Linked DNA regions of Homo sapiens: region 2 is linked to region 1. Evidence: fine-mapped expression QTL. Tissue or cell type: T cells. Region 1 holds a variant in brackets; the other region holds the start of a gene. All regions are shown on one strand. Distances are between the middles of the regions.

The links. PIP is the estimated chance that this variant, and not a neighbour inherited with it, causes the effect.
Region 2: MAPK13 starts here. The variant in region 1 is fine-mapped to the expression of MAPK13 in T cells (TOPMed, PIP above 0.99).

What each region holds. Positions count from the first base shown.
Region 1 is chr6:36,173,019-36,181,387 of GRCh38, reverse strand. BRPF3-AS1 (BRPF3 antisense RNA 1) reads left to right here. Exons shown (of 3, transcript NR_187147.1): 2 at 1,681-1,771. Among named protein-coding and RNA genes, the nearest start is that of BRPF3, 20 kb to the left of the region's middle. The variant A/G (reference allele first, on the strand shown) is at 4,207.
Region 2 is chr6:36,126,587-36,132,752 of GRCh38, reverse strand. MAPK13 (mitogen-activated protein kinase 13) reads right to left here and starts at 2,240. Exons shown (of 12, transcript NM_002754.5): 1 at 2,052-2,240; 2 at 1,353-1,482; 3 at 74-132. The coding sequence starts at 2,170. RefSeq lists enhancers at 515-764, 1,475-1,594, 1,486-2,089 and silencers at 1,235-1,344, 1,985-2,054, 2,095-2,344.

The DNA of each region.
Region 1 (8,369 bases):
AGCTGAACATGTAGAGATTCCTGGAAAGTGGCAGGCCTGGAGAGAGCATGGAAGCTTCATGCCCCTTCTCTCATACCTCACCCTATGCATCTCTTCCATTTGGCTGTTATCTATATCCTTTGTAATATCTTTTATAATAAATGGATGAATGTAAGTAAAGTGTTTCCCTGAGCTGAGTGAGCTGTTCTAGCAAATTAATCAAACCCAAGGAGGGAGTCATGGGAATCCTCAATTTATAGCCAATTGGTCAGAAACTCAGGTTGCACAATGTAAGCACAATCTATGCTTGCAACTTGCATCCAAAGTGGAGAGGAGTCTTGTGGGACTGATCTCTCAACCTATGGGTAGAGAACTCCGGGTGGATAGTGTCAGAATCAAATAGAACTAAAAGACACTCAGATGTTATCTGCTGCAGAACTGATTGCTTGCTTGATGTGTGGGTATAAACCCCCACACATCTGGAGTCACGGAAGTGTTCTGTGTTGTGAGGGTATAGTAGGAGAAACTGAGTTTGTTTTTTTCCATACCAAGTACCCCTTTAATCTTTAATGTGAATAATTGTTTCCCTAATATTAAACCATTCTCTTAGCAATGGAAAATTCTGCTTACAAAAAATATATGTATTAAACCATTCTTGCATCCCTGGATTAGCCTGACTTTCTCATTATTTATTACCTTTTTAAAATATCTCACTGATTTGGTTTGCTAATACTTTAATATTTTTACATATAGGCTCCAAAGTGAGATTGTCTATAATTAGATTGTTTAGGGAATCAAGTTTTATTTACCTCATAAATGAGTCGAGAATATTTTCTCTTTTTCTATTTTCTATAAGAGTTTGTATAACATTGGAATAAGCTGTTTATTGAAAAGTTGGTAGAACTCACTATCTTACTGTGTTTCTGCTGCTGTAACAAAATACCTGACACTGGGTAATTTATGAAGAAATGAAATTTATTTTCTCACAGTTCTGGGGGCTGGAAAGTCCAAGATCAAGGTGCCAGCAGGTTTGGTGCCTGGTGAGGACCTAGTTTCTGCTTTCAAGTTAGCGCCTTGTTGCTGCCTCTTTCAGGGGATGAACACTATGTCCTCACATGGCAGAAGAGATGAAAGGGCAAAAGGAACTGACTAGTTCTTTGGGCCCTTTTATAAAGTCACTAATCCCATTCATGAGGACTCCACTTCATGAATTAATCATTACCTAAAGGGGTTACCTCTTTGTTTTATTATCCCCCCTGTTTTGACACAGAAGAATTACCTACCTCTTAATACTATTATATTGGTGAGACTGCTTCAACTTGAAACAATATGAGTTTTAGGGGACATTCAGATCATATAAATTATTTAATCCTGATGGCTTCATTGTAAGAAGATTTTTATTAACTTCAATTTCTTTACTGGTCATAGGACTTATTTCTTCTTGAAGTATGTTTTCCTAGGATTTTGTTCATCTAAGTTTTAAAAAACTTTTTTTTTCATCTCTGATCCTTCTGTAGTTATGTCCCCCTTTGCATTACTAATATTTTTTCTCCCTCTCTCTTCTCCCCTCCCCCTGCCCCCTGTAGTTTGTCAATTTTATTAGTTTCTTCCCTATGTAACAAGCTTTGAATTTGTTGATCCCCTCTATTGTACTTTTTAAAATACTTTTTAAAAATATCTCATTTTATTTTGTTTTTATAGGTGGTATCTCACTGTGTTATCCAGACTGGACTCAAATTTCTGGGCTCCAATGGTCCTCTCACCTCAGCCTCCCAAGTAGTCAGGACTACAGGTACACACTACTGTGCGTGGCTATTGTATTTTCTTGATTGTTGCTTTAATAATTTTTATGTGCTTCCTTTTACTTTCTTTGAGTTCATTCTTTATTTTCTACTGTCATCGGTTGGGTGCTTAATTATGTCATTTTCAGGTTTTAATTTCTAATATAAGCATACAAGACTATATAAGTTTACCTTGAATTACCACTACTATTTTGTTTCCCAAGTCTTGATACACAGTATTTTTATTATTGTTCATTTCTAAATATTTTTTACACTTTTATTACAATTTCATCTTGGATTGAAGTATTGTTTCAGGAGTATGTTTAATTAAATTTTGAGATAATTATAGATTCACATGCAGCTGTAAGAAATAATAGAAAGAGATCCTGTGTACACTTTACCCAGTTTCCTCCCAATTTGTAAAATTTCTCCTATTTGTAAAACTATAGAAAATATCACAATCAAGATACTGACATTAATGAGAAATCAGCTGTTAGTTTTACCGAGGATCCCTTATATGTGATGAATTACTTCTCTCTCACTGCTTTCAAGATTCTGTTTGTCCTTCGCTTTCAACAATTTGATTATAATGTGTCTAGGTGCAAATCTTTTTGAGTTTCTCGTATTTTGAGTCTGCTGAGCTTCTAAAATGTGTAGATTAATGTTTTTCACAAATTTGGGGAGTTTTGGCCTTTTTTTCTTCCAGTATTCTTTTTAGGTCTCTCCCCTCTGCTTCTTTGATTTATTTTATATGTATGATAGTACACTTCATGGTGTTTCACAGATCTCTGAAACTCTTCATTTTCTTTATTCTTTTTCTCTCTGTTTTTCATATTGGGGCATCTCAATTGACCTTTCTTCCAGTTTGCTGATATTTCTTTCTGCTAGCTTGAATCTACTATTGAGCTCCTCTAGTGAATTTTTCATTTCAGTTATTGTACTTTTCAACTCTGGAATTTCTGTTTGGTCCTCATTTATAATTGTATCTTTGTATCAATATTTTCTAGTGAGACATTATTCTCATGCTCTTCTTTAGTTCTCTAGATATAGTTTTCTTTAATTGTTTGAACACATTTATACTATCCTATTTAAAGTCTTTGTCTAGTAAATCCAACATCAGGGCTTCCTGACAGTTTCTATTCATTGCTTCCCCCCACCCAGCCCCCACGGTGTATAGGTTATTTTTCCTGTTTCTCTGCATATCTTATACACTTTTATTGAAAACTAGATGTTTTAAATAATAAAATGTGGCAACTCTGGAAATCAGATTCCCCCTCTTCCCCAGAATTTATTCTTGCAATTGCTGTTGCTCCTGTTTGTCTAGTTACTTTCCTAAATTAATTCTGTAAAGTCTGTATTCTTTGTAACGTTTGGCCACTATAGCCTCTGCTTTCTTAGCTTAGTGATCAGGTAATAAATGGACAGATATTTTCTTAAATGCTTTGAATTGATAAGTCTCCCAGCCTTTGCCAAAGGTCTGTGTGTGTGTGTTGGGACATATCCATAAAGCTGTACCACACACTAGACAACTCTGCTTTAGTCTTTACTTTCTGCTTGTGCAGAACCTCAAGGTCTGCCAGTGGTTAGAGATTAAGGTCTTCTCAAACCTTTCCTGGGTACGCACATAGTTCTGGGCAGGGATACAGCCTGTACATGCATGTGGTCACCTGTACATGCATGTGGTCATCTACATTTCCGGGAAATCTGATTAAGCTTTCCAAACACACTTATAAACTTCTTAATCCAGCTGGGCAAGGTGGCTCATGCTTGTAATCTCAGCACTTTGGGAAGCCGAGGTGGGCGGATAATTTGAGGCCAGGAGTTCGAGACCAGCCTGGTCAACATGGTGAAACCCCATCTCTACTAAAAATACAGTAATTAGCCGGGCATGGTGCTACATGCCTGTAATCATAGCTACTCAGGAGGCTGAGGCAGGAGAATCACTTGAACCCAGGAGGCAGAGGTTTGCAGTGAGCCAGGGTCGTGCCACTGCACTCCAGCCTGGGCAACAGAGCAAGACTCCATGTCAAAAAAAAAATCTTATTCCTCAGTTTTTCCTTATAATCTTTTTTTCCCCCAAATGTTATCACCTCAGGCACCTGAGATGTTAAACAATTGCCACTAATTGTTTTCCATAAATACTCCAAAGAAAAGGCTGTTCACAGTAAATGAACCCTGAGTCAGTTCCAATAAAGACCAACCCTGAGAGCCCCTGTGGTTTCCAGGAAACTGCCAGACAAGTCAAAGAATAACTAATGGAAGATGAGCATTTAGGGGAACTCCAAGCCCATTCTGCCTGCTTCAGTGACTGCTAGGTTGCTGGTTTTCAGGGTTACCATGATTGAAGGTTGTTGGTTTCCAAGGCTACTATGGAACTACAGAAAGAGGGATGGCAATAGGACAAGTTAAAATGCCACCAGTCTTGCTCTTCTTATGAGATTTAGCC[A/G]TGTGTGTGTGTGTGTGTGTGTGTGTGTGTGTGTGAAAATGCTCCTCAGACTTTTGTGAGCCTTTGGTTAATTTTCAGAGTTCTAAAAATGTTGATTTTAACAATTTTTTGCCAGTGCTCTCATTGCTTTTCTGAAGAAATCAATTTTTGGCGATTTTTACTCCACCATTCTGAATGCAGTTCCAATCATATTGACATTAATACAGTCAAGATACAGAACAATTCCATCACCACAAGGATCTCTTGTGTTGTTCTTTTACAGCCACGTGCATTTCCTTCCTATTACTGTCTTAGGCCCTGGCAACCACTAATCTGTTCTCTATTTCTATAATTTTGTTATCTCAAGAATTGTATAAATGGAACCATGCAGTATATAGCCTTTTGGGATTTTTTTCACTCAGCATGATTCCCTGGGGGTTTATCCAGATCATTGCCTTTATCAATAATTTGTTATTATTGCTAAGGAATAATCCATAATATGGATGTACCACTCTTTATTCACCCACTGAAGAACATCTGAGTTGTTTCTAGTTTAAGGATTTATGGATAAAGCTGCTGTGAATATTCATATACAGGTTATTATATGAATATAAGTCTGTCTTTCTCTGAGATAGATGCCTAGAAGTGTAATTGTTGAGTCATACTTCATTTAGTTTGTTTTTTTTTAAGAAACTGCCAATCTGTTTTTCAATTCAGCTCTACTATTTTACATTCCCACCAGCAATATATGAATGATTTGGTTTCTCTGCATACTTGCCAGCATTTGATGTTGTCAAAATTTTTTATTTTAACTAGAGAGAGTATATGCTAATATTTTATTGTGGCTTTAATTTGCATTTCCCTAATGGCTAATGATATTAAACATCTTTATATGTGCTCATTTGGCATCTAATTGGATTATTTTTTACTGTTGAGTTTTGAGGGTTCTTTTGAGAGTATATTCTGGATACTAATCCTTTGTTGGATATGTGGTTTTCTTCAGTTTTTAGCCTTTCTTTTTATCTTGTCAACAGGGTTTCTGAGAAAGCAACAGTTTTTTAATTTTTTATAGAGTCCAATTTATCAATCTCTCCTTTTATGAATTATGTTTTGGTGTCAAGTCTAAGAAATTGTTGCTAGTGCTAGGTCTCAAATATTTTCTCCTATTTTTTTTCCTAAAAGTTTTATAGTCTTGTTCTTTACACTTAAGTCTGTGATCTATTTTGAGTTAATATTTGTAGAAAGTATGAGACTTACTTCAAAGTTCATGTGTTTTTGTTTGTTTGTTTTGCATATGGATCTTCAATTACTCCAGTGCCGTATGTTGAAAAGGCTATCTTTTCGTCATTGAATTGCTTTTGCACCTTTGTCAAAAATCAGTTAGACATTTTTGTGTAGGTCTATTTCTGAGTTCTCTATCCTGTTATATTGATCTGTATCTCTCCCTCTGCCAATACCACACAGTCATGATTAGTGTAGCTCTATAAAAATCTTGAAATTGGGAAGACTGGTTCCCCCACTTTATTCTTTTTTCCAAATTATTTTGGCTATTCTATTTGTCTTTTCACATAAATTTGGGGACTAATTTTGTGTATTCTACATAAAACCTTGCTGAGATTTTAGTAGAAATTTTATTTAACTTATATATCAATCTGGGGAGTATTGACATTTTTAGAAGTGTGTTTTTAAATTTATAAATACATGGAGAGTTCCTTTCTTTTCTTTCCTTCCTTCCTTTCTTTCTTTCTTTCTTCTTTCCCTTCCTCCCTTCCTTCCTTCCTTCTTTCTTTCCTTCTTTCTTTCTTTCTTTTCTTTCTTTTCTTTCTTTCCTATGGAGTCTCGCTGTGTTGCCCAGGCTGGAGTGCAGTGGCACGATCTCGGCTCACTGCAACCTCCGCCTCCCAGGTTCAAGTAATTCTCATGTCTCAGCCTCCCACGTAGCTGGGATTACAGGCACTTGCCACCACGCCTGGCTAATTTTTGTATTTTTAGTAGAGACAGGGTTTCACCATGTTGGCAAGGCTGGTCTTGAACTCCTGACCTCAGGTGATTCGCCCACCTCAGCCTCCCAAAGTGCTGGGATTACAGGTGTGAGCCAGCACAGACAGCCTTTTTCTTGATTATTAACATCTCATTTAATTCTAGTGTAGTCAGAGAATGCTATTATTATAGCAGTTATTTGAAATTTGCTGACACTTTATGGACTAGTATTTAATTTTTATAAATGTTCCACATGTGCTTGAAAAGAATGAATATTCCCTAATTTTTAGATGTTCTATTGTGTTCTATTGTGTGATCAAAAACTAATCCTGCCAGCCTGGCCAACATAGTGAAACCCTGTCTCTACCAAAAAATATAAAAATTAGCTAAGCATGGTGGCACATGCCTGTAGTCCAGCTACTGGGGAGGCTGAGGTGGAAGAATCACTGGAACCCAGGAGGTAGAGATTGCAGTGAGCCGAGATCGCACCATGGCACTCCAGCCTAGGCGACAGAGTGAGACCCTACCTCCAAAAATAAAACAAAACAAATTAATTGTGTTATTCAAATCTTTTTTATTTTTTTAACCAATTTTTTTGTGTACTTATAACCCCCTATTTTTAAAATTATATAACAAACTTCTTCCTTCCTAATAATGTTTTTGTCTTAAAATCCATTTTCTCTAATATTAATATAACTACCTCAGCTTTCTTTTGTTAGTATTTGTCTGGATTAGTCTTTTTCATCTTTTTGCTTTCAACCTGTTGACTTATGTTTTAAGTGAGCCTATTGTACAGTATATTAATGGACTTTGTTTTTATTTCAAATTTAAGTATCTCTGTCCTAAATGGCACTTTTAGGTCATTAACTTTATTGTAATTATGATATATTTGGCCTTATTTCCATCACCTTGCTTTGTGCTTTGTCCCCTTTTCATTATATTCCCCCCACCACACGCATATACACATTTCTTGTCTCATTTTAGATTTTTGCCAATCTTTCTTTCCTTCCTTCCTTCCCTCTCTCCCTCCCTCCCTCCCTCCCTCCCTCCCTCCTTCCCCCCCATTCTTCCTTTCTTTTCTTTCTTTTGCATATATCTTCTCTCTATTGGTTTGGAAATTATACATTCTAATTTTATTATTTCGTGGTTACCATTAAAATTTCACCATGCATACTTTAAAATGTCTTGAGCTAATCAAATCTGTAAGTCTTCTGAACAACATAGTTTCCCTCTGAGGTTCTGAATCTTCAGATTCAATCAATTGCTGATTTAAAATATTTGAAAAAAATTTGGCCAGGTGCGGTGGCTCATGCCTGTAATCCCAGCACTTTGTGAGGCTGATCACCTGAGGTCAGTTCAAGACCAGCCTGGCCAACATGGTGAAACTCCGTTTCTACTAAAAATACAAAAATAGCCAGGCGTGGTGGCAGGCACTGGTAATCCGAGCTACTTGGGAGACTGAGGCACAAGAATCGCTTGAACCCAGGAGGCAGATGTTGCAGTGAGCCAAGATTGCACCACTGCACTCCAGCCTGGGCAACAGAGTGAGACCCTGTTAAAAAAGAAAATTAGGCCTCAGTAAACCTGATATTTTTAAAAAGAAAAAAAGAAATTGTATAATTAACCACTTTTGCACACCAAATATAAATGGTACAAGTGGGGATGAGGAATTTTAAAATTCATTAAAATGTATAAATATATACCCAACGAGGAAAGAAATATGGGTAGAGGTGACAGTCCCTATTCTGTAATTGCTTATGGGGCTGTGGTTGACATGTATAAATTTTCCTCTCTGTAATTTGTGTCATGTTCCCTTTGCCTTCACAAAAGAACTCAGTAAGTTGGAGTTTCTTACCAAACTCACCTCATAAGAATTACTTCCTTGGTAAATCTGTCTTCAGGGATATAGCAGTCTTCCATTAACTTTTTCCGTTGGATATGGTTGTTTAAGACCTGCTCCAGAATAGCAGACCTGAGTTCTATTAAGATTTTCCTATCCCGAGGTCAAGGCTATAGTGAGCCATGATAGTGCCACTGCACTCCAGCCTGGGTGAGAGAGTGAGACTCTATATCAAAATTTTTAAGATTTCCACATCCCCACTTTGAAGCAGCAGCCTTCTTTCCCATGATGATCAAGATTATTCAGGACCAGTCATCCCAGTCAACATCATGACCTTCTTTATTTTTTTTTTTGCCTGTGGTAT
Region 2 (6,166 bases), 48 kb after region 1:
CCCTCCCCCACCTTGCTCCCCAGCGGCATGTAAGGCCTGCAAATGCCCCAGAACCCAGTGCAGCCCAACTCACAAGTCATAGAAGTTGCGCAGGGAGGAGGCTGGGGTGAAGACATCCAGGAGCCCAATGACCTGGGGAAGAAGTCACCTGTGAGGGCTAGACAGACGCTACCTTCTCCTCCCACCTCCTCCTGGGCCCTGGCCATGCACAGGGCCATCCACCCTTTCCTAATACACCACCTCCAGCAGGAGGCATGTCTCCAACCTTCTTGGAAGCAGTAAAAAGGGCAGAGGCCTAGAGGAATCCCCTGGATTTGGAGGGAGTTTGCAATAAATCATGACAGAGAGTCAGGCTGGGGAGAAGGGAAGGTGGGGAGAATGATGTGTGCTCATTGCTGTCAAGTCTGGTGTCAGGGCAAGCAACACAAACCCACTCTCAACTCACCTAGGCAGCAGGAAAGCATAAGGGGAGGGTGGAAGGGAAAAAGGAGGGAACAGAGAAGGAGCTTTTCAGCCAGCAAACTCCCTGCCCCTGACCTTGGGTCTCCAGCCACATCCATCCTTGCCTGCCACAGGGCTGGTTCAGAGCCAAGGGCAAGATCACCCTGGCTGGAGGCCATAGGGGAGGGGTTTGCTGGAGAAGGATGGGCTTAAAATGTACATAACATTTTGAAATCATTCTTTGAAATGTCTGCCCTCCAATCTAGGTATCCTGCAGCAAAGCCTGGCTGCCAGGCCCTGAGCTGGGCCCCTGGTTTTCCCAGCTGCTTCTATCAGACAAGACAATCTGATGGTCATGTGCTCAGACCGGGAGCCTCGCTGCCGAGATTGAAACCCCAGCTCTGCTACTGACTAACCATCTAATCTGTGAGCCTTGCTGTGCTTTAGTTTCCTGTCTGTGACATGGGGGCAGTAGTACTCATATATCATGAGGACTAGACAAGTTAGTGTATGCAGAGCTCTTAGAACATAGGAAGTGCTCAATATGTGTATATTGCTATTGTTATCAGGGTCACGTGGACACAACGCTAACTAGGATTCTAGTCCCAGCTGGCCACAAGCTCTCAGACATGGAACCAATTACAAAGTTCCCCTGTGCCAATTTCCTCTGTAGGATAACACAGTCTGTACCTCACAAAGTGCATTCTGCCAAAAATACCCTTTGACCTCTTCCTGGAAAGTGGGCAGGGAAGGTCTCGGCACCCCCTCCTTTCAATAGTGAGGCGAGAGGCACCGTCAGGGGAGCAGGGAGGAGACTGTCCCGAGCTCTCCATACCGGGAGGCCCCGCCTGCGCCTGCCCCTGACTCCCCAGGGCAGCCCCCACCCCCTCCCCGGGGCAGCCACCACCTACGTTCTCATGCTGCATGTGCTTCAGCAGCAGCAGCTCCCGGTAGGCGCGCTTGGCGAAGATCTCGGACTGAAAGGGTCGGCTCAGCTTCTTGATGGCCACCTTCTCCCCTGACCGCTTGTCGATGGCCGAGCTGTCGGGCACAGGCCGGTCAGCAGGCGAGGCTCTCCTCCTGGGCCGTATCTCCCAGACCGCCCTGACCCCTCCCACTGGGCAGCTGGGCTGAGAGGGGACTAGGCCCACCACCTAGAATATGGGGGAGCCGCGGGACGCAGGGCAGGGAGTAGGAAGCCAGGCAGGAGCTGAGAGAGGGGCACAGCGCCAGGGGCAGCAACGTCTCATTGCGACGGGATCCACGGCAGGGCGGGAGTCTCACTCTGTCTGCAACTTGGCGAGCCACCTCCCCCTCTTGGGGCCTCGGTGTACTCGTCTGTAACAGTGAGGATCTGCCCGATGAACTCTGGGGTCTTGCAAGTGTACAGTCCTGGAGAACCAGGCCCAGTCCCAACTCAACCCCCAGAGACCTCACTCAGCCACTCGGTGAGAAAAGGGAGATGGCCGCTGGGTGGCCCCGGGGAGGGCGCTGGGCCTTGAGGTCCGCGGTCAAGGTGGCGCTGGCGAGGGGCCAGCCCAGGGCGGGCTGGGCGGAAAGGGGAGAGCCTGGCGCCCGCCCCCCGCCCCCCAGCGGCCCAGGGGTCTCACCACACGGAGCCATAGGCCCCGCTGCCGACGTGCGTCGGGGACACGTAGGTCTTGGGCAGCTCCCAGGCTGTCTTGTTGACGTCCTGCTTGTAGAAGCCCTTTTTCCGGATGAGGCTCATCCCGGGCACCCGATCTCGGCGGCCCCAGCGTGGCGGCTGCGTTCGCGGCCCAACGGGCTCCCAGCGCCCCGACCCCCGCTGCGCCCGCCCCGCGCCGCCCGCTCCTCCCCCGCGCGAGGGCGGGGGCCCCGGGCTGCTACGCTCCCACCTGCCGGCTCGCCCAGGTGCGCCGGGGCCGCCACGCCCGGGCCTGTCCAGCCCTGCGCTCCCGCGCTTCCGCCCGGCCCGACGGAGCCACTGCGGCAGGTGCGGCCCAGGCACGGGGTCGGGGCTGCCCAGCGGGACCCCGGTGCCTCCCAGCCGAGCGCGGGCCAGCGGCGGGGCTGGTGGGTCCAAGCAGGAGCGGGGAGGCAGTGCTTCCCAGTTCCCTCCAGCCCCGGTCTCCGTAGGAAGAGCTCCCTGTGACTGTGAACACACAGGAAAGCAGAACAAAACCCCACAACCTCTTCATTATGGAAAATGTCAAACATGCAGGAAAGAATTGAACAGAGTAAGCCAGCGCTTCTCACACTTCAGTGTGCTCAGGAATCCCCTGGGCATTTTATTTGATTAAAATACAGATCCTGACTCAGTAGGTTTGGGGTGGAGCCGAGATTCTGCATTTCTAGCCAGCTCCCAGGTCTGAGGCTTCTGAACCACATCTGATAGGAGGTTCTAATGAACCCCCGTGACCCCAATTCCCCAGCAACCACAACTCATAATCAATTTTATTTCATCCACATTCCTCTCCCACCATCGTTTTGAAGCAAAACCCAGGCGTCATATCATTTTATTCATAAATATTTTTGTATCTCTAAAACGTAAGGATTTTTAAAAGTACGTATCCACAATACTATATATATATATTTTTTGAGACTCTGTCGGAGTGCAGTTGCCATCTCGGCTCACTGCAACCTCCGCCTCCCGGGTTCAAGCAATTCTCTGCCTCCGCCTCCCGATTAGCTAGGATTGTAGGTGCCTGCCACCAAACCCGGCTAATTTTTGTATTTTTAATAGAGATGGGGTTTCACCATCTTGGCCAGGCTGGTCTTGAACTCCTGACCTCGTGAACCACCCGCCTCGGCCTCCGAAAGTGTTGGGATTACAGGCGTGAGCCACCGCGCCTGGCCCACAATACATTCTTAAACCTAAAATTAATAGCACTAATTCTATAATACCAAATATCCACGCAGGTTCAAATGTGCAGGATTTTTGTTTGTTTTTGACATGGAGTCTCACTCTATTGCCTAGGCTGGAGTGCAGTGGCGCCATCTCAGCTCACTGCAACCTCCGCCTCCCAGGTTCAAGCAATTCTCTTGCCTCAGCCTCCTGAGTAGCTGGGACTACAGGTGCACACCACCACTCCTAGCTAATTTTTGTATTTTTAGTAGAGACGGGGTTTCACCATGTTGGCCAGGCTGGTCTTCAACTCCTGACCTCAGGTGGTCCGCCCACCTCAGCCTCCCAAAGTGTTTGGATTACAGAAGTGAGCCACCGCACCTGGCCCAAATGTGCAGTTTTGAACACAGTTTCTGTGGACTTCCTAAGGCTCTATGAGGACAATGACTAATTGGGGCCCTTGCCACCTGTCTGGTGGCCTGTGCAGCCTGATGGAGATTCTTTGCTCAAACCACAAAGGCCTCTGAGGAGCAAGGTGGGCAGGTGGGGGGAGGAGATGGCTGCAAGGGCTCTGGATGCCCAGCCTGACTTGTCCAACCCCTCTCTTGCCCAGGCATGGGGCTGTGGAAGGGGCGGGGACCACCTGCTTCACTTTGTCAAAAAGAAGGTCTATTGAACAAGGAAAGAAATTTGCTAGGGGCTTACAGCAAGCCGGGGGCCCACACTAGGGAGTCTGCAGCCCCCAAACTCTGTGCCCCAAGCCCTCCCGGGCAGTCCTGCAGCCTCAGGCACAGCCTGGAAGATCATTCTGAGATGAGGGTGGGGTGCCATCATCACACAACAACACCTGCCATTATTTCAGTCAGGCAATCTGTCTTTTTCATTTCTGGCACATGGCAATATAACAGCAAATGTGTGGAGAATGAATGGAGGAGTCAGCCCATTAGATGTAAAAGAGTCATTTAATACACACTTGTGTTTGCCATGTGCCCGTCATTAAGTGTTTTATATAACTCACTTAATCCTGGTAAGAGGCCTGTGAGTCAGTAATATGATTATCCTCATTTTAGAGATGAGGAACCCGAGGTACAGAGAGGCTAAGTAATTTGCCCAAGGTAACACAGCTGGTAAGGGCAGAGCTGGGTGAAAGCAAGTACAGCCTGATTCTAGAGTCCCTGCTCTTGGCTGCGAGGCTATGCGGTGGCCTAGAGTTGACAGAATTGCTCCTCAAAGGAAATGGCCTTGCCCACATCATAAGGACATGTCTACTGATCCAACCATGTCTCCCTCAGTCCATCCTGCCCTGGGGTATCTGATATTTTCCCCAGCCTTTTCCCTCCCCCACCCCCTACTCTGGCCCTGAGACCCCATGAGAGCCTAAGGAACGGGGTCGCTTGCCTGTGAGTGCTGCAGGAGTTTTGGACCTTTGGGATCAGTGGCACCAGTGCAAGGTACCTTGATTCTGAAGTTGGGGTGGGGTCCTGGAAGCCAGATTTTAGGCTAGACGCAGGCAAAAGAGAGTAACTGACCTCAGAGATTCAGGTTTTCTTCTGGTTTGAGGATCCAGTAAGGAAAGGGGCTAGGATGTGGCACCAGGTCAGGATGGCGCCTCTCTGCTGCACGTCTTAAACACCTGAGTGGGGCAGAGGTGAGCCCAGGAAGGTGGGGATACCAAGGACATGCTCATCGCCCAAGTGGGTGCGATCTTCTGAGAGCACGAGTGGCCACTCTGGCTGTAGCTCCGGATGCTCTTGAGCAAGGGTCAGGAAGTGACTCAGGCCTCCGACTCTGCTGACACTGACCCCTACTCTGGGCCTGACTGGCTCTGCATTACTCAGCAGCCAGGCAGTCTGGGAGGGAGCCCTTGGAGGATCCAGTTGGGGAGTCATGAAAGGGAGGGGAGGAGGAGAGGGTCACTCAGGTCATCCTGGATACCCTGCTTCTCCAGCCTGAGGCTCTCTTTTGAGTTCCAAGGGCCCTTTGCTCTTCTCCTCTCCAAACACCAACCCAAGTTGTCTTGTTGGTTTCTGCCCTATGAGCATGGAGCATGGAGGCAGGGATTCAGGAAACTAGCTTTGGAATGAGGCCTGAATTTACATCCTTTCTCTGTCATTACCAGCTGTGTGACCTTGGGCAAAGTCTGGCCCTCTCTCTGAGCTTCAGTGTCCTCCTTGTGAAATGGGGATAATAATAAAGTATGACAAGCATATTGAAAGAGCCTTAGGATTGTATCATTTCAAGTACATATTCCTCACGACAACCCAATGAGGTAGGAACTTTCAATGCCTCCAACCAGAGATCACCAGAAACACACGTGTGGGTGAACAAGCTGAGCTGATGACTCGTTGCAACAAGGGAGAGCATGCACCATGGGGATCATGGGGCGTCCCAGGAAGGGGGCGTTAGAAAGGACTTAGTCTAATGTTTGGAGTTGTGTTAGGTGATTGGGGAGAGGTTAAGGAAGTGAGGCTTTGTTCTGGGTTGATGCTGTCAGGAAGTGGAGCTAACACTATGATTGGGAGTCTTAATACATCTTGCCTAGAAGGAAAGCAGACTAGAGCAAGGCTGAAGCTACAGCTGGTAAACCAGCAGCCTCCACTCAGCTTAGCTCTACAGGGGGATTTGGGTCATTTCTGTGATTTGACAATATTCATGTTTTGTCTGTGTTCAGATATGATTAAGGAGTAGTTTCATTTTTGTCTTAGTCTGCCCTGGTCGCGGATGGCCTTGTTCTATGCTGATGTCTGTGAAATCGTCTATGTTCAGCACAGCAAGACCGAATTGCACCAGGCTGGACAGCTCTGAGCAACCAAGTCCTGGCTGATAGGACCAGGCAGCTCCCAGATGTCAGGGCTGCTTTGGTCTAGTCTATTCCAATATAATTATTCCCCTGGTACA